Regions from separate parts of the Homo sapiens genome. Here regions 2, 3 and 4 are each linked to region 1. Evidence: fine-mapped expression QTL. A gene starts in region 1. Each other region holds a variant in brackets. All regions are shown on one strand. Distances are from middle to middle.

The links. PIP is the estimated chance that this variant, and not a neighbour inherited with it, causes the effect.
Region 2: its variant is the best candidate, but not a certain one, in a credible set for the expression of UBR1 in whole blood (INTERVAL, PIP 0.58).
Region 3: its variant is the best candidate, but not a certain one, in a credible set for the expression of UBR1 in monocytes after LPS (Fairfax 2014, PIP 0.81).
Region 4: its variant is the best candidate, but not a certain one, in a credible set for the expression of UBR1 in whole blood (TOPMed, PIP 0.71).

Annotation. Positions count from the first base shown.
Region 1 is chr15:43,103,765-43,108,645 of GRCh38, forward strand. It overlaps UBR1 (ubiquitin protein ligase E3 component n-recognin 1), which reads right to left and starts at 2,274. Exons shown (of 47, transcript NM_174916.3): 1 at 2,178-2,274. The coding sequence starts at 2,258. RefSeq lists an enhancer at 2,093-2,372.
Region 2 is chr15:43,002,699-43,007,579 of GRCh38, forward strand. It overlaps UBR1 (ubiquitin protein ligase E3 component n-recognin 1), which reads right to left. Exons shown (of 47, transcript NM_174916.3): 30 at 4,381-4,586; 31 at 1,139-1,232; 32 at 1-6. Among named protein-coding and RNA genes, the nearest start is that of TTBK2, 84 kb to the left of the region's middle. The variant C/T (reference allele first, on the strand shown) is at 2,013.
Region 3 is chr15:42,622,243-42,627,123 of GRCh38, forward strand. All of the region lies in intron 3 of STARD9 (StAR related lipid transfer domain containing 9), which reads left to right. Among named protein-coding and RNA genes, the nearest start is that of STARD9, 49 kb to the left of the region's middle. The variant G/A (reference allele first, on the strand shown) is at 2,947.
Region 4 is chr15:42,942,954-42,947,834 of GRCh38, forward strand. It overlaps UBR1 (ubiquitin protein ligase E3 component n-recognin 1), which reads right to left. Exons shown (of 47, transcript NM_174916.3): 47 at 1-2,517. The coding sequence ends at 2,376. Among named protein-coding and RNA genes, the nearest start is that of TTBK2, 25 kb to the left of the region's middle. The variant C/T (reference allele first, on the strand shown) is at 2,263.

The DNA.
Region 1 (4,881 bases):
CTCTATAAATGTCCCATACTATTTAACTTTGTCTAAAGATAAACAATAAGGAGTAGGGGGAACAACTGAGCTTGTATTGCTTAACAGCAAAGTAGTAAACTTGGAAGCCAGTGTCATACCATGGCTAGAATAAAATTAAAAACAGTAATAGCTTTTAAAAGAGAAAAAGAGAAAGAGAGAGGTAGAATGATCTGTAGGGTCTTCAGTAGACAGAGAGATCCAAGCCAAAAAAGGGGTTATAAAGCTTAACAGTCACAGGACTTCATTTACTGACATTACTCTACCTTGAATTAAAATTATTTGGGCCCTTATATTACCTGTGTCACCAGACTGTGAGTTCCTTGAGGCTATATTACACAATCTACCTACTACTTTGCAAAACCCAAAGCCCTGCCCAACAAAATCTAATAATATTTCCTGAGGTAAAGAGTTGCCACATAAATTCTAGCTCAATTCCTGTATCATTATCTCCAATTCCAAATTAGTGACGTCCAGAATGATGGGGTTTTATTGTATTATCTGGAAAAAATTAATGTATCAAAGCTTTAAATAAATATTAGTCTTCAGATACAAAACTATAACAATTCTTCTGACCACAGCAGTTTCCCCACTCCTTCTAACAAGCAAAACTCACAAACTACCATTAAAATGTTTCAGTTGCTTTTAAATTTGTCCTACCTCCTCATTCCTTATCATCTCAAATAAGATGCTTCCTCCTTCAGGAACAGTAGTGAAGTGAATTTGAACTGCTATTTGGGGTGGAGGAAAACGGCAAGCACTGACATAGTCAGTGGCCAAATCCTTTTTCCAACTCCCTCCCTACCTTGTTCCTACCTCCTAGACAGTCTCTTCAGTCCCTGGAGTTGACTCATGCCGTAGCTCCCTCTGTAGTTCCCTCTGTTCTCGCATAAAACAATGTTCAATTGTATGCAGGGTTAAAAAAAAAAACAAAAAACCTTCAAGAATGCTTTTAATCTGTAATCCCAGCACTTTGGGATGCCGAGGCAGGTGGATCACCTGAGGTCAGGAGTTCGAGATCAGCCTGGCCAACATGGTGAAACCCCGTCTCTAATAAAAATAAAAATAAAAAAAATTAGGCAAGCATGGTGGCAGGCACCTGTAATCCCAGCTACTCAAGAGGCTGAGGCAGGAGAATTCCTGAACTCGGGAATTTGCAGTTCAATTCCTGAACTCGGAAGGTTGCAGTGAGCCGAGATTACACCACTGCACTTCAGCCTGGGCAACAAGAGCAAAACTCTGCCTCAAAAAATAAATAAAATAAAATAATGTTTTTATTAAACTACAAGCCAAAGAAACTTCAGAAAAAATGTGTATATCCCAAATCTCTAAATGCTGCTATTTAGAAAGACAAACTAATAAAACATCATGCGGTGACAGATATTTGAATATTTTCTACATATCTCCACACTAGATGCCCTGGGCATCCAGAACATTCCCTAACATTGCCCCCTACTCTTATCTTCCTCGGCAGCTTTCTCCCTGTAGCTAGTGACTCAAATTTGTTCACTATCTGTGCCTTCCCATTCTTTCAAAATGCAAGAGCAAAGTATAGATTCCGACATCAATTAATGGTATTGCTCTGGCTTGAAATGTTTGGGAGTCCTTTCTTCACCTTTAAAAAGTAGCGACAGATGATGGGTTTCTCCACTGAGGGTTAGGCCTGGGGTTCCCAAGATGCTATACGCAAGGACAATTACTACACCTCACATCTAGACATGACTTGACAGTAGCAGCACTACCTACCAATATCAGGTCCCGGCCAGCAGGCTATGCAATAAAATACCAGGTGCTGCGTTCCCATCATCAAGAGTAAAGGGTTAGTACTGCTTCTATACGAAAATGGCTCTTGCTCCAACCCCGCCTCGGCCCCCACATCAAACCGTCTAATAACATCACTGGTTCTTTCTACTTCAGAATAGAGACATGCACACTTGAGATCATCAAGAATAATACATAACAAAGTCATTATATTCCGTAGACTTGGCTGGCAGAAATGTGGGTTGCGACTAACTTTTTATTCGGTGGCTTCCTTCCAGATCAATCCAGATAACTCCCCCTCCCCAGAGCCGCCATAAGGGGTGAAGCCCCACATCCTCCTAAGCGCAGTAGGGAGGGACCGGGGGGAGGACAAAAGAGACTTGCCTATAGGGACTTACAGATGCCAGACGCTGAGGGGTCTGGGGTAACTCCGCGCTGATTTCCATCCTCTCAGTACCTCCAGCCTCCTCGTCCGCCATCTTGAGGGAAACTGACGCCTGCAGTTGCCGACCCCCGGCCAGAGGCAAGCGGAAACCTGTGGCCGGTCGGAGAGACAGGGACGACACTTTTACGACGGCCCCTGAAGTCGGGTTTGACGCAGACTCGAGGAGTGGCTTCCGGCCCGCTTCCCGGAAGCAAGCGTCACGACGTGAAGGGACTGGAGATTTTTTTTTTCCCCTCTAATTTATCAGGCGTAGCTCTTGGTAGCTGAATGGTTGTATATCTGGGTTTGGTGCTGGGAACTGTTGCATCTACGAGGTAAAAAAAACAAAGTCAGCGTCCATTATGAAAGGAAGAAAACTTGTCGGGGGCTAAAGCAAGAACCTGTCCTAGCTGGCCGGTTGTTGGCCTGGGGATGTTTTGTATCCCAACCTCCCTGCAGTAGTTCCCCAGAGCCTACAAAATGAAAAAGAAAGTACTCACACATCTTCTATTTTTAGGATTCTACCCCGTGGGCACTTGCACATGTGTACAAAAAAAGCTCGGGATCCAGCTTTATTGGGGGACACGGGGGGAAATAACAAAAAATTGGAAACCTAGTCATTCATCGATAGAGGAAAGACAAGATATACTATGGTACATTCGCATTTTGAAATACTGTGCAGCTCTTGAGCAAGATAAATCTGCGTGAAAAGATCAAGATAAATTGAGAGAAAAAAAAGCCAAGTTGCTGCAAACTATATATTTGCACACATAGGCATTTAAATGTGAAGGAGTAAGTCTGAAAGGGGAAAGGGCAAAGTAGTAACTCTGAGGGCCAGGATTCGGATTGGAGGAAGAAGGTGGTCAAGAGCTACTTTACCTTCATTTGTATTTTAAATTTTTTACAAAACAAATAATTTTAAAGTATATTTTTAACAAAGGGAAGAAAATAAAGCTCCAAACAATGTGAAAAGTAGAGGAGGCTTTCCAAATGCTGTGGTCCACCTTGATTTATAGAACTTTCCTGCCTAAACAATGTTTCTGCTCAAATGAACTACTTCCTGGGTGCTAAAATACTGTTTTTCCAGCCTTTTTTGCCCAACAACCACAATAAATACATTTTACATCTTATCACGGTACACCTATACAAAATTAAATGGGTATATATAGAATATGTATATATATACTGAAACTTAAATTTTCTGAAACAATACTTCCAATATGTCATATTTTCTATTCAATTGCAATATGTTTATGCATTTAAGCCAAAATACTGGTTGTAGTTATTAAAGTGATACTATAACCCACAATAGGTATTGTCCCACATTTTGATAAAAATTGCCCTAAAAGTTACCTTGTCCCTTCCTGTCTCTATGCTTTTACTTCTGTAGTTCTCTTATGCTACCCCACGCTCTTCTCTTTTTCTTCTTTCATTCCTAGATAAATGAAATAGACTAGAACGTTCAGAAATAGGTCGGGGCAGTGGCTCACGCCTGTAATCCCAGCACTTTGGGAGGCCAAGGTGAGTGGATCACCTGAGGTCAGGAGTTCGAGACCAGCCTGGACAACACAGTGAAACCCCATGTCTATTAAAGATACAAAAATTAGCTGGGTGTGGTGGCAGGTGCCTGTAATCCCAGCTACTCAGGAGGCTGAGGCAGGAAAATTGCTTGAACCCAGGAGGTAGAGTTTGCAGTGAGCCAAGATCATGCCACTGGCACTCCAGCCTGGGCTACAAGAGCAAAACTCTGTCTCAAAAAAAAAAAAAAAGAAAAAGAAAAAACAGAAAATAAAAAGAAATAATAGCCACTTATCAACATCTTAATGTAATCAAAGCACTAGTATATTAATAACACTAGCTATATATTAATAACAATCCTTTAGGTAGATGTTACTACTTCTATTTTACTGTCATGAGAAACTGAGAAAACTGAAGTTTAGAGAAGTTACATAATTTGGTTAGGGACATGCAGCTTCCAAGTGACACAGCAGATATTCAGCCAGCACAATGGCTCACCCCTGTAATGTTAGCACTTTGGGAGGCCAAGGCGGGAGGATTACTTGAGCCCAGGAGTTTGAGATGGGCAACATAGCAAGACTCCCACCTCTACCAAAAAATAATAATAAATAAAATCCAGTTCAAATGACTCACAAGGCCCTATTCTTATCCATTTCACTTTATTACTTTATACCAAATTCAAGTATTTTACACATGAAAGATAACAGCATTTCAAGTGAGAAGGAAATTATGAACTGCTTATTTATTTATTTTTTCAGATGGAGTTTCGCTCTTGTTACCCAGGCTGGAGTGCAGTGGCGTGATCTCAGCTCACCACAACCTCCGCCTCCCGGGTTCAAGCAATTCCCCTGCTTCAGCCTCCCAAGTAGCTGGGATTACAGGCATGCACCACAATGCCTGGCTAATTTTGTATTTTTAGTAGACACGATGTCTCTCCATGTTGGTCAGGCTGGTCTCAAACTCCCGACCTCAGGTAATCCGCCCGCCTCGGCCTCCCAAAGTGCTGGGATTATAGGTGTGAGCCACCACGCCCAGCCGGACTGTTTATTAAGTGGTGCAAAAACAGATGGTTATGTAGCAGTTCCTCAAAAAACAAAATTAGACATAGAATTCCCATGTGATCCAGCAATTCCACTTCTGGGTATATATCCAAAAGAAGT
Region 2 (4,881 bases), 100 kb before region 1:
AAATACCTGCAAAATTACAAAGACACAGGCCCATTCAGAACTACACATGCATCTCTACATGTGTATCTCTACTTGCTCTAATCCAAGTTTTAAAAATCTGGAATTTTTGCCCCAATAAACATCTTTAGAACATACATGCAAAAACACACAAGTTGTAATTATAGAAGAAACAGGTTGCCCATTATTTTGGGGACAAATTGGAAAATACATCAGAGCAGATATAAATTTAAAATAAGTTTATTGAATCATAACTCATCTCTTGCCTCAACAGCATGGTGATACAGCATGGACACTACTTTCCTCAGTTTCTAATGATGAACTGAAGTAGTGAGGGCTATCATGGAAAAATTATATATTGTAATCTAAAGCCAAATGGGTAAACTCTACACAAAAGATTTCTCAGGAATTACATTTTTGAAATTTTATATTTTCCAGAGATAGAACGAGAACTTCTTGTCCTATTCATCCTATTCTATTTCAAAGGTACTTTTCACAGCTGTATGTTTTGACAGAAATTAGATTTTTATAAAGATTACTTTTTTATTATTTATTTGTTGTGTTTATTAATTTTTTTGAGACGATGTTTCGCTCTTGTCTCCCAAGCTGGAGTGCAATGGCGCAATCTTGGCTCACTGGAACCTCTGCCTCCTGGGTTCAAGCGATTCTCCTGCCTCAGCCTCCGGAGGAGCTGGGATTAAAAGCATGTGCCACCACACTCAGCTAATTTTTGTATTTTTAGTAGAGACAGGGTTTTACCACGTTGGCCAGGCTGGTCTCAAACTCCTGACCTCAGGTGATCCTCCTGCCTCGGCCTCCCGAAGTGCTGAGATTACAGGTGTGAGCCACCACGCCCGGCCAATTATTACTTTTTTTACATGAATACTGATGAAGAGCAACTGATTAGTTTATGGAGAGCAAGCACAAAGGAACAGTGAAAATCTAAAGTTGGTAACTTTACACACCACTTTCCAACTTTGATAATAATAATTCATGCAAACAGAATTAGTAATTAAAACTGTTTCAATTATTCAAATAAGAAGAAAGGAAAGAAGACATGAGAAAACATGCCTTTTTGTGGCCTTGAGTGAACTTCAATGTTCCTAGTCTCTTTCAAGAACATGTCAGAAGGACAACTTACTTCTGCCAGCACACTGCGTGCATTACATGACCACAGCTTCCTGTATAAGTTCCATATGCCAAGTCTGGATCCATGAAAAGTGGGTCTAGGGCTTCTGGTACAAGGTATAAAAAGGAGGGAAAAAGAGAGACAGGTTATCAGGTCCAAAGTCTAATCACAAACTGTCTTAGGAATGTCCAAGCAAAGTGTCACAATATCATGATAGGAGGATATATAGTAACAAAAAGAGAAAAGTAATAGTAACAAAAGAGAAAAGCATAAAGGTAGCCTGTCAGATATGATTCTAAAATTAGTATGGATTAATAACTCTATCTTTGATTTACTTTTTAACCTTGAATATTGGGTTTAATCTGCATTATCTTGGTTATTTAAGTGATCTTCTATGTTTCCAAGATAATTTACTTTTTTAATTTTAATAGTAATTTGATAAATAATAATTTTAAGGGATACTTAGGGGAATTATAACCTCATTAAGAAAAGCACAGATTGGATCTCCCTCTTCCTCTCTCTCTCCCTCCTCTCCTCTCCCTCCTCTCCCTCCTCTCCCTCTCCCTGTCCCCGGTCTCCCTCTGATGCCACCAAAGTTGTGAAAGCCGAGGCTGGACTGTACTGCCGCCATCTCGGCTCACTGCAACCTCCCTGCCTGATTCTCCTGCCTCAGCCTGCAGAGTGCCTGGGATTGCAGGCACACGCCGCCACGCCTGACTGGTTTTTGCATTTTTTTGGTGGAGACGGGGTTTCGCCCTGTTGGCCGGGCTGGTCTCCAGCTCCTGACCGCGAGTGATCTGCCTGCCTCAGCCTCCCGAGGTGCCGGGATTGCAGACGGAGTCTCGCTCACTCAGTGCTCAATGGTGCCCAGGCTGGAGTGCAGTGG[C/T]GTGATCTCGGCTCGCTACAACCCCCTCCTCCCAGCCGCCTGCCTTGGCCTCCCAAAGTGCCGAGATTGCAGCCTCTGCCCAGCCGCCACCCCGTCTGGGAAGTGAGGAGCGGCTCTGCCTGGCCGCCCATCGTCTGGGATGTGAGGAGCCCCTCTGCCCAGCCGCCCAGTCTGGGAAGTGAGGAGCACCTCTTCCCAGCCGCCATCCCGTCTAGGAAGTGAGGAGTGTCTCTGCCCGGCACCCATCGTCTGAGATGTGGGGAGCACCTCTGCCACGCCGCCCCATCTGGGATGTGAGGAGTGCTTCTGCCCAGCCGCGACCCCGTCTGGGAACTGAGGAGCGTCTCTGCCCGACCGCCACCCCATCTGGGATGTGAGGAGTGTCTCTGCCCAGCCGCCCCGTCTGAGAAGTGAGGAGCCCCTCCGCCCGGCAGCCACCCCATCTGGGAAGTGAAGAGCCCCTCCGCCCAGCAGCCGCCCCATCTGGGAAGTGAGGAGCATCTCCGCCCGGCAGCCGCCCGGTCCAGGAGGTGGGGGGGCAGCCTCTGCCCGGCCAGCTGCCCCTTCCGGGAGGGAGGTGGGGGGCAGCCCCCGCCCGGCAGCCGCCCCATCCGGGAGGTGGGGGGCAGCCCCCGCCTGGCCAGCCGCCCCATCCGGGAGGGAGGTGAGGGGCAGCCCCCGCCCGGCCAGCCGCCCTGTCTTGGAGGGAGGTGGGGGGCAGCCCCCGCCCGGCCAGCCACCCCATCTGGGAGGGAGGTGGGGGGGCAGCCCCTGCCCAGCCAGCCGCTCCGTCTGGGAGGTGGGGGGGCGCCTCTGTCCAGCCACCCCGTCTGGGAAGTGAGGAGCCCCTCTGCCCGGCCACCACCCCGTCTGGGAGGTGTACCCAACAGCTCATTGAGAACGGGCCATGATGACGATGGCGGTTTTGTGGAATAGAAAAGGGGGAAATGTGGGGAAATGAGAGAGATCAGATTGTTACTGTGTCTGTGTAGAAAGAAGTAGACATGGGAGACTCCATTTTGTTCTGTACTAAGAAAAATTCTTCTGCCTTGGGATGCTGTTAATCTATAACCTTACCCCCAACCCCGTGCTCTCTGAAACATGTGCTGTGTCCACTCAGGGTTAAATGGATTAAGGGCGGGGCAAGATGTGCTTTGTTAAACAGATGCTTGAAGGCAGCATGCTCGTTAAGAGTCATCACCACTCCCTAATCTCAAGTACCCAGGGACACAAACACTGCGGAAGGCCGCAGGGTCCTCTGCCTAGGAAAACCAGAGACCCTTGTTCACATGTTTATCTGCTGACCTTCCCTCCACTATTGTCCTATGACCCTGCCAAATCCCCCTCTCGGAGAAACACCCAAGAATGATCAATAAATACTAAAAAAAAAAAAAAGAAAAAAAAAAAAAGAAAAGAAAAGCACAGATTGAGGATTTCAAATTCTGGTTTCATCACTTGTAACTCATGGCCATGGGTAAGTTACTTGACCTCTCTGTGCCTCAGGTCCTTCATCTATAAAATGGAACTAATAGTGATAACTAACTCATAGGGCTGTTGTGAGGATTAAGTAAGTAAATACACATAAAGCACTTAACAAGTGCCTGGCAATGTTAAGTTTTCAATAAATGCTAGTCTTTATTATCACTATTATTCCAAGGAGCTTGTTTTGTTTGTTTTGAGACAGGGTCTCACCCTGTTGTGGACCACAGGCTCATGCAACCATGCCTGGCTAATATGTTTGTAAAGACGAGGTTTCGCCATGTTGCCTAGGCTGGTCTCAAACTCCTGAGCTCAAGTGATCCACCCACACCGGCTTCCCAAAGTGCTGGGATTACAGGCGTGAGCCACCATGTCTGGCCTATTCCAAGGATATTTTAAAATAATAATGATGCTAAAGCAGCTAATTCCTGATGTAATAAGTGCAATAAATTATCTAATTAGCATTCCTGCCAAGAAAATGTTTAACATGATTCTAATCAGGAGGCAACTTAACAATCAGATAAATTCAGAATGTGACACATTATACAAAGCAAGTGGCCTGAATTCTTCAAAAAAGCTACTATCATAAAAAAAGGAGGGACTAATCTGGATTAAAATAGAGTAAAGGAAATATAGCCAAAGCAACACGTGTTTGTTTGGATCCTAAGTGAAAAAAAAAGTCTAGGAATTGAAGACATTTTGAGAACTGTTGGAGAAAAATTGATTTTATATTAGATAATATTCCTGGATTATTATTACTTTCTTAAATATGATAATGGTATGGTAGATATATAACCCTTATTTCCAAATGTTTTTCAAATAGTATTTTCTTTAATTACACAGGCATGAAAAGAAATGCACAAAAGGATATTTATTAAATAATACATACCTCCTGAGAGTTCTATGGGTTTTCCCCTGTGCTGGGTTAAGGCAGTAGATTTCTGGACACAGGCCGATAATACCATGGCATTATTTTCTATTTTCACCTCCTGTTCTTCTTGGCAAAGGATGCACGTCAGCACCTCCTTTTCAGTAACAGATGGACCCCGTTTAGGACCCAAAGCAATTCTAGAGTAGTCACTGACTGCTGGGGTGCTACCAAAAGAAATGATCAGAAATGAGGACACATGTTTTGGTCACTTGTCTTCATATTTTGGTAGATTTTAAGTAACTATAGGCAAGAAATATAAGAAAGATAATAAAAATAAAAATGATATTTAGCAATATTAAGTTAAAAGCTTCCCCCTTTCCTTTGTGGCTTTTATCAGTTATTTGCTTATTACAAAATACAAGTGTTGCTAAGTGCAAAAAACAGATGATAAAATGGAATGTATATTATAATTTTACTTAATTTACTATACCAATAAGCTGGGCTTTTTTTTTTTTCTGG
Region 3 (4,881 bases), 480 kb before region 1:
AGCCTGGGAGACAGAGTGAGACCCTTAAAAACAAAAAACAAAGAAAAAGAATAATGAAAAATGAAAGCCAAGTTTCTCATTATCACCTGTAGCTCGCTCTCTCTCTCCCTCTCTCTCTCTCTCTCTGTCTCTCTCTTTTTTTAGAGACAGGGTCTCACTTTGTTGCTTACCCTGGAGCGCAGCTGCATGATCATAGCTGATTGCAACCTTGAACTCCTGGGCTCAAGTGATCCTCCCACCTCCGACTCTTGATTAGCTGGGACTTCAGGCATGAGCCACTGCCCAGCGGATGTCTCTCCGTTTTGGATCCATACTTCCTTGTTCAAATAAAACTAACTTGAAGGAAGGGGTGGGGCAGAGAGATTTGTTTGACTGTCTCTGTGGTTACTTGCCTGGGTATCTGTTGTTCCTGAGGTGGGAGATCTTTAGTTGTAACTATGAACTTTCCAAGGTTGACAGTGAGGTATTAAGAGATGACAAATGGAAGTACAAAGATTTTTCAGAGGGAGTCATGTGACATGGTTGTTCTCCTGTTTTGTCCAGAGCTCTGATGTTCTGAAGGATTGAAATGAAAAGGATACATTTTATATTTTATGGTGATACAGTCCTGGGGTCAACCTCACTGAAGAGAGGCCTTTATCTGGGGACATTATGTGGGGCTTCAAGGTAGGGACCTCTCTCAAAGTGTGCTTTGAAATAAGTAAGTATAGCTTAAGATGCAGATCAGGGCCAGGCGTGGTAGCTCACGCCTGTAATCCCAGCACTTTGGGAGGCGGAAGCAGGCAGATCACCTGAGGTCGGGAGTTTGAAACCAGCCAGACCAACATGGAGAATCCCCACCTCTACTAAAAATACAAAAATTAGCTGGGTGTGGTGGTGCATGCCTGTAATCCCAGCTACCTGGGAGGCTGAGGCAGGAGAATTGCTTGAACCTGGGAGGCGGAGGTTGCAGTGAGCTGAGATTGTGCCATTGCACTCCAGCCTGGGCAACAAGAGCGAAACTCTGTCTCAAAAAAAAAAAGATGCCGATCAAATGCCAACACTGCTATGAATATTTCCCTCACTACCTCAGGCCACAGTCATTTTCCTTTCTCCAAATATAATATTTATGTCTCCTCTTTATTCATATTCTACTATGTACTGGTATTGAACTGTTTACTGACTCTATGGTCTATCTCTCCAACTATATGATAAGTTTGTTGTGGACTGAAGACAGTGTTTGAAAGGTTTTTCAAACCTCTCTCAGTGTCCTGTGTGGTGCTGGGTTCCTGTTAGGAACTCAATAAATACTTTCTTCCAAGATTAAGAGAATTCTAGTTCTGGGACTTGGATGGTTCAAGACTCATTTCTTTCAAAATAATGACTCTTCTTTCTTTCCGTTGGGTATGGCATAGATTTCATTTGGCTTTGTTCGTGTTTACCTTCATTTCAAAATTTCTGTTGTAGTCTCTCCCTTCTCTTGTTCTTTGGGAACTGTTTAAATACCAATTTCCATGGTATGCATTGCATGGATAAATGTAAAATGTGGACGAACATGGGAAATAAATCTCTGTATTTCACAGCATAAAATGGAGAAGGCAAATAGGAAATCTAGACTCATTTGTCAAAGTTACATATAGGCTGTTGCCTGGAAAAATCTGCAATTTATCAGGGATAGTATCTGGTCCACACTTGGGCCAGGGCCCAAATTATGTCAGTTAACTTCTAGCTAGGCTTACAATGGGAATAGATGCATCTATAAACATTTATATTGGGTAGAGACCCAAAGATGAATGGCCTGTAGTGGGATTGAAGGAACAGCCCAGAATTTACCTGACATTTATGAAGTGTGGACAGTATTTCCTGAAACTGTGGGTTTATGTTTGCAAAGCTGGCACAGATGACACTTTCCCTTGTTAGACTGTTCACACTTTGGGTAAGCTACTGCCAAGTGGACAGTGGCTTATGTAAGGCTTGGATGCCTTGTGAGTGGAGCTATAGTATGCTTTCCCATGCTATATACATTGGGAAATTAAATAGAAAATTTTAATTACTAATTAAAATGAAAAATATTAAGTTGTCTAAGCATAAACAGAAAAACACTATTTATGTCTATAATATAACAAAACAAGGTTCAGCTTAGTATCCTCATTATATTTAGGTATTCTTAATTACTGTATTTACATCAGAATTTAAGATCTTGAAGGAACATTAGATATATTATCTAGAAATAAAACAAAAGTCTGAAAGAGTAATTTCACCACCAAAATGTTAAGAATGTATTATCTCTGAATAGTGGGATCATTTTTGTTTATCACCATTTTCTGTTGTCTTTTTTTTTTTTTGAGACAGAGTCTCCCTCTGTCATCCAGGCTGGAGTGCAGTGACGCAATCTTGGCTCGCTGCAACCTCCGCCTCCCAGGTTCAAGTGATTCTTCTGCCCAAGCCTCCCAAGTAGCTGGGACTACAGGCATGCGCCACCACGCCCAGCTAATTTTTGTATTTTTCATATAGACAGGGTTTCGCCATGTTGGCCAGACTGGTCTCGAACTCCTGACCTCAGGTGATTCACCTGCCCTGGCCTCCCTAAGTTCTGGGTTTACAGGCATGAGAGAATAATTTTCATAGTGAATACACAAATACTGACTTGTCAATAAAGATGTTATCTGTTACTGCATTTAGTAGCAATTTTTCTAAAAAGGAATAAAGTTTTCTAATATAATTCTTTTATTTTAACAATGGAGTTACAGACCCATAGAGATAAGTAATATTTAAAATTCATTTAAACAGAATACATCATAGACATTTAAAGCTATTTTCTTTTTGATACAGTCTCATTCTGTCACCCAGGCTGGAGTATGGTGGCACAGTCTTGGCCCACTGCAACCTCTGCCTCCCAGGTTCAAACGATTCTCCTGCCTCAGCCTCCCAAGTAGCTGGGATTACAGATGTGTACCACCACACCCG[G/A]CTAATTTTTGTATTTTTAGTAGAGATGGGGTTTCACCATGTTGGCCAGGCTAGTCTCATATTTCTGATCTCAAGTGGTCCACCCACCTCAGCCCCCCAAAGTGCTGGGATTACAGGCATGAGCCACCACCCCCAGCCTTAAAGCTATTTTCTGTTTTTGGAGACAGAGTCTGACTCTGTCGCCCAGACTAGAGTGCAGTGGCGCGATCTCGGCTCACTGCAACCTCTGCCTCCCGGGCTCAAGCAGTTCTCTTGTCTCAGCCTTCCAAGTAGCTGGGATTACAGACACACGCCACCACTCCCGGCTAATTTTTATATTTTAGTAGAGATGGGGTTTCACCATGTTGGCCAGGCTGGTCTCGAACTCCTGACCTCAGGTGATCCACCCACCTTGGCCTCCCAAAGTGCTGGGTTTACAGGCATGAGCCACCATGCCTGGCTGCTATTTTCTTCTTCCTATTTTTTTTTTTTTTTAGGTAGATTAAGAAAAACTAATGAAGAACTTCTTTTCTGTGTGAAAATTTTAGTTTTTAATAGCAATTTCAGTTTGTAATAGACATGCATGAAACTTTTCTGTGGGAAGGTATTAAGGGCTGAGTACTACATGTATTTTGTTGAATAACTAACCTCTCTCTCAGTGGAATGATTTTCGTATTTATAAAAGAAAAAGAATGACCCCTAAGCCCTAACAAAACCTTCAAGACATGAAGAAAGAGTTATTATTATTATTATTTTATTTATTTATCTTTTTGAGACAGAGTCTAGTTCTGTCGCCCAGGCTGGAGCACAGTGGTGCGATATCGGCTCACTGCAGCCTCTGCCTCCTAAGTTCGAGTTATTCTCCTGCCTCAGCTTCCCAAGTAACTGGCATTACAGGCACCTGCCACCACGCCTGGCTAATTGTTGTATTTTTTAGTAGAGACAGGGTTTCACCATGTTGGCCAGGCTGGTCTCAGAACTCCTGACCTCAGGTGATCTGCCTGCCTCGGCCTCCCAAAGTGCTGGGATTACAGGCATGAGCCACCACACCTGGCAAGAGTTTTAATTCTTCTTCTTCTTCTTCCTCTTCCTCTTCCTCTTCCTCCTCCTCTTCCTCCTCTTCCTCTTCCTCCCCTTCTTCCTCTTCCTCTTCTTCCTCCTCTTCCTCTTCTTCCTCTTCCTCTTCTTCCTCTTCCTCTTCTTCCTCCTCTTCCTCCTCTTCCTCTTCCTCCTCCTCTTCTTCCTCCTCCTCCTCCTCTTCTTCTTCTTCCTTCTCCTCCTCCTCTTCCTTCTCCTCTTCCTCCTCTTCATCCTCTTCCTCTTCCTCTTCTTTTTTTTTTTTTGTGGCAGGGGAAAGAGTTTCATTCTTGTTGCCCAGGCTGGAGCGCAGTGGCGCGATTTCGGCTCACTGCAGCCTCCGCCTCCCGGGTTCTAATGATTCTCTTGTCTCAGCCTCCTGAGTAGCTGGGATTACAGGCATGCGCCACCACGCTCAGCTAATTTTGTATTTTTTTTTTTTTTTTTAGTAGAGACGGGGTTTCACCGTGTTGGTCAGGCTGGTCTCGAACTCCTGACCCCAGGTGATCCACCCACCTCGGCCTCCCAAAGTGCTGAGATTACAGGTGTGAGCCACCGCGCCTGGCCATCTTTAATTTAATGGTTTATGTGAGGGTTTTTGATATCAGTTTTTTTTTTTCAAGACAGCGTCTCTCTCTGTCACCCCAGGTAGATGGAGTGCAGTGGTGTGATGTCGGCTCACTGCAACTTCTACCTCCGCGGCTAAAGCGATCCTTCAACTTCAGCCTCCCAAGTAGCTGAGGCCTCTCAGCCTCCCAAAGTGCTGGTATTACAAGTGTGTACCACCGTGCTTGGCCAATTGTTTTCTGGGAGGCCAAGGTGGGTGGATCGCTTTGAGTCCAGGAGTTTGACACCAGCCTGGGTAACATGGCAAAACTC
Region 4 (4,881 bases), 160 kb before region 1:
AAGTTTTAAATTTACATTTTTGCAATAAAAGTTATCAATATATGCATTATTTGTATAACTTCATCATGGATGGAATTTGAATCAGTGGTATAAACATGTTGCAGTCACTAAATATAGATCATCATCACAGTGAACCAAAATGCATAGTTGTTATGAAATGACAAATGACCACTAAAAGGTGAACTCACAGCCCATACACCAATATAATAAATTAATTATACAGATATATTTTTCTTCACCATATCATTAAAATTCTCACTAGCCCCTTACCAAACATTAGAAAAACACAGTTCTGGAGCCATCCTGTTGAACCAGTGCCTTCACATACTACACTAAAGAAAATAAAGTGACTCAGTTGCTTGTTTGTAAGTAAACTTCATAAGCATAATTGTTTGCAATGATTAAGGTAAATCACTAGGACATTTGAACATAATGAGAAATCCCTGGGGCTTGGGGCAGCACTGAGACATACGCTCATCTACAGTGCAAAAATCTGAATCAATCTCAATCAGTGGAACGCAATATGAAATGGGTTCTTTGGCAGTAAAGGTCTGGCTGGCCATTGCCAGACAGTCCCTCTGTCCTCTTGAGAGCCTAACTCCAGAATTTATTAAGTTAATATAAAAAGGACTAAAAATAAAGTCAGTTTATCTTTGCTAAATTGGGGCCCATCTATTAGGGTAGAAGTCAGTATCTTCTGTTTCCTATTCTAGCCCAGATTTCCCAGTCAAACAATCCACTCAATACAATTATATAAGAAACAAACACACATGTTCAAATACTTTCATCATTCTGGCAAATCTGACAAACTGAATACTGAATTTCCTGATCCTTACCTGTTATTGTTACAAATTGTTCACTAGACATGTATCTATTTATCCAGATACCTTCTGAATTGTAATTATTCAAGTAGAAAATCATGATTGTGATTCTGACGCCTGCTCATGCCAATCCCTTACTGCAAAATCCACTTTTCTTTACATAAAAGTACCAAAAAAATCTAGCCCCAAATGTGCATCACTAATCACTTAGCAAATATATTTTACTTGCTTGCCTTTGCTGAGCAAAAAGAAGGTAGGAAAACATTTACACACATATGTGAGACACTAATAGCCAAGGGCAAAATAAGATACAGTCTTTGAATGCATCTTTCAAGGTTCTAACATTACCCCAGAAACAACGTAAGTTAAAATGGAAGGTTTCCATTTATCTTCTGCTGTTTTATATCACAATCTCTTGATACAAAAAACAAAAGCCAGGAACCAAGAAGTCTATGCACAAATTCAGGAGAGCTCTATTATTTATAAACAAGATGGCTCAACCACAGCATGTTATAACAGGACACAGACTATTGATCACATGGCTTTTTTGGTGGTTTGTACTAGTCATAAAACCAGAGTTTATGAAAAGGTTGCACACAGACAACATCAAGGATTTGTCTTTTACAAAGATATAGAAGACTGCGGAATTGGTTTAAATCTGATTGTTCTAATTTACAGTTGTCATGATCCACTCATTGCGAGAATTTTCTCATCTTCATTCTACAGTTTTTACATCAGAATTACAAGAGGTTTCTGAGAGTCAAACAGGATGGTGCCACAATCTCCTTGCAGAATGAGATTTGCCTTTGGAAAATGTCAAGTATTATTTCAAAACTCAACAAAGCTACTGGTAGTCAGAGGTGAGAACTGCAAGCTCTTTGTACCGTCAGGAATGAATAACAAATACATTACCCTAACTTTTCTTGAGGCCTACAGTGAGAAAAAAGCTTTTCCATATTGGCAGAAATCATCCTCTGTCCACATAGAGATTGAGTTTAATTTGTGGTGATAGCAGCAGGTGGCACATTAGGGGTATTTCCTTAAAAGAGAAATAATAAAAAATTTATTTTTGGAATCTTTCCCAAGTATATTGCATGGTTTCTGCAATTCTTCTTTAACTGCAAGGAAGACTATCACAGATTATTAGAATTTTGTCAGTGATCCAATGTCAGTTGAACTAAACTTGGGGGGAAAACACCAAATACAAAATTGCAGAAGAGTTAACCAACATATAAAATGTCTACAACTGTTTGACGTGACTTCATCTACCAAGTGGATGAAATAAAATGAAATGAGACAAATTATGAAGGGGAATAAATTCCTGGAAATACTAGCACATAAAACAGATTGATCTATGTCCTTTTTTCCTGTGAAGCATATGTTTGCTAATTGAAAGCAATACTCCATTAAGAAATATTTTATTGATGTAAGTGAACCTGGA[C/T]ATGGAGCAAAAGACCCTCCAATACTTTCCCAGCCCTCAGAAAGTTTTCCATAATTTTGAATCAGCCTTTACTACTGTCGTCATTTGTGATTGTCTTGAGGCAGAGTTGGAGCTCACAGTAACTGCCAGTTGAATCCAAATAACATCTGATTAGTCTCTTGGCTCCTAGCAATCTCTTCTATAATGCAGTGTTGTTGCCAGACCAAATGGAGCTTCCGATACCGCTCACGAGATAAATGAAGGGGGTTGCCCCTCCTTTAGGGAAAAAAGAAAAAACAACATGTAAGTTTGAATCTAGTAACTGCCACATCTTTATTGTCTAAATTAGTATGCACTCTTGAGATGTTCCTGGAGCCGGGAGGACTCACCAGCACAGGGCTTAAAAAGGGATATTTTCCCTTCACCATTGATCACTAAGAACTTGACAGGCTACTTAGCTAATAAAGCAGAAATGTACTCCTTGACCATTCATAAAATAGGTCAGGTATATTATGGCATTATGGGACCTCACTTAAATGGTCACTGAGGTTTATAACTTGAAGCAGCACTATTCTTTTTTGGTGGTTAGCTTGAATAGCTTTTTGGCTTCATATTGTTATCTAGCTTCAATTTATGATCTTTGCACAGTAGAGGTTAGGCCTGACGTATAACACTAGGCCCTAAAATTATATTTTGCTACTCAGAGATATTTGGTTGTAACTGTCCTTACGATACAAAAAACTGGCTGGTTATTAGCAAATAATTTAATAAAATAATTATACTTCAATTCTAGAGTTGCACAGTTTTTAACACTGTATAACAGCTAATCCAAAATGACTTAAGTCTGGCTGTTGCCAGTAACGGAGAACTGTGAGATCCTAATTCCTTGAGACATTCAAGTCTCTCAGCTGGTTGGGGATTTTTTTTGTTTTTGTTTTTGTTTTTTGGAGATGGAGTTTCGCTCTTTTTGCCCAGGCTGGAGTGCCGTGGTACGATCACGGCTCAGGGCAACCTCTGCCTTCCAGTTTCAAGCAATTCTCCTGCCTCAGCCTCCAGAGTAGCTGGGATTACAGGTGCCCGCCACGATACCTGGCTAATTGTTTTTGTATTTTTAGTAGAGACGGGGTTTCACAATGTTGGCCAGGCTAGTCTCGAACTCCTGACCTCGTGATCCGCCCGCCTCGGCCTCCCAAAGTGCTGGGATTACAGGCGTGAACCACCGCGGCCGCCTGGTTGGGGATTTTTAAACTGCCAAATTAATGTTAAAACTCTGCTTTGTACCCTTGTGGAACAACTAAGATTCTCAGTCATTAACTACTTTCACCACTCTGCTTTTCTCCCTAAACCTAAAGACAGGTCAAATGTCATCCCAATAAAAAGAAAGCTCTGTGTGATCCAAGGTCCCAAGCCCCATCTAATAAGTGTATTCTTTCTGAGCAATATTTCAAAGGAACAAAATTTCAGTGAACCAAAAAGAGTTTATTGTAAGGAGGTCTAATCTTTATCTATATGTACTTTTGAGATCACTGTCAGTCTCCTCATTTTCATAAGTCATCAGTAGGACCCCAGTTCCTACCACCAGGGAAGGATACAGAAAAGTTCAGGATTCTAAATATTTTGTTAATGCTCAGAAGGAAAGAAGGCTGATATAGCTGGCTAATAAAAAGTCTCAGTTGGGTGCAGTGGCTCATGCCTGTAATCCCAGCACTTTGGGAGTCCAAGGTGGGCAGATCAACTGAGGTCAGGAGTTCGAGACCAGTCTGGCCAACACAGTAAAACCCCGTCACTACTAAAAATACAAAAAAAATTAGCCGGGTGTGGTGGTGCATGTCTGTAGTCCCAGCTACTTGGGAGGCTGAGGCAGGAGAATCGCTTGAACCCTGGAGGTAGACGTTGCAGTGAGCCGAGATCCAGCCTGGGTGACAGAGTGAGAGACTGTCTCAAAAAACAAAGAAAAAAAAAGTTTCAAGTATTGCAATGGAAACAATATCTCTAAAACAAACTTCATCACTGGACACTACAAACTTATACTATCAGTGTCAATCCTTTTAAGTAGTTCTGAAGAAAGGTTGATTACAAACAATAGAACACTGAAACATTAAGATGGCTGGTGTCTTTAAAAATTTTGGGGAAACACTACCTTCAAATTTTGGAGAAGTTGTTGAAAATTATGTGCTACAAGACAGGGATGCCCTCTCTCACCACTCCTATTCAACATAGTGTTGGAAGTTCTGGCCAGGGCAATTAGGCAGGAGAAGGAAATAAAGGGTATTCAATTAGGAAAAGAGGAAGTCAAATTGTCCCTGTTTGCAGATGACATGATTGTATATCTAGAAAACCCCATTGTCTCAGCCCAAAATCTCCTTAAGCTGATAAGCAACTTCAGCAAAGTCTCAGGATACAAAATCAATGTACAAAAATCACCAGCATTCTTATACACCAATAACAGACAAACAGAGAGCCAAATCATGAGTGAACTTCCATTCACAATTGCTTCAAAGAGAATAAAATACTTAGGAATCCAACTTACAAGGGACGTTTAGGACCTCTTCAAGGAGAACTACAAACCACTGCTCAATGAAATAAAAGAGGATACAAACAAATGGAAGAACATTCCACGCTCATGGGTAGGAAGAATCA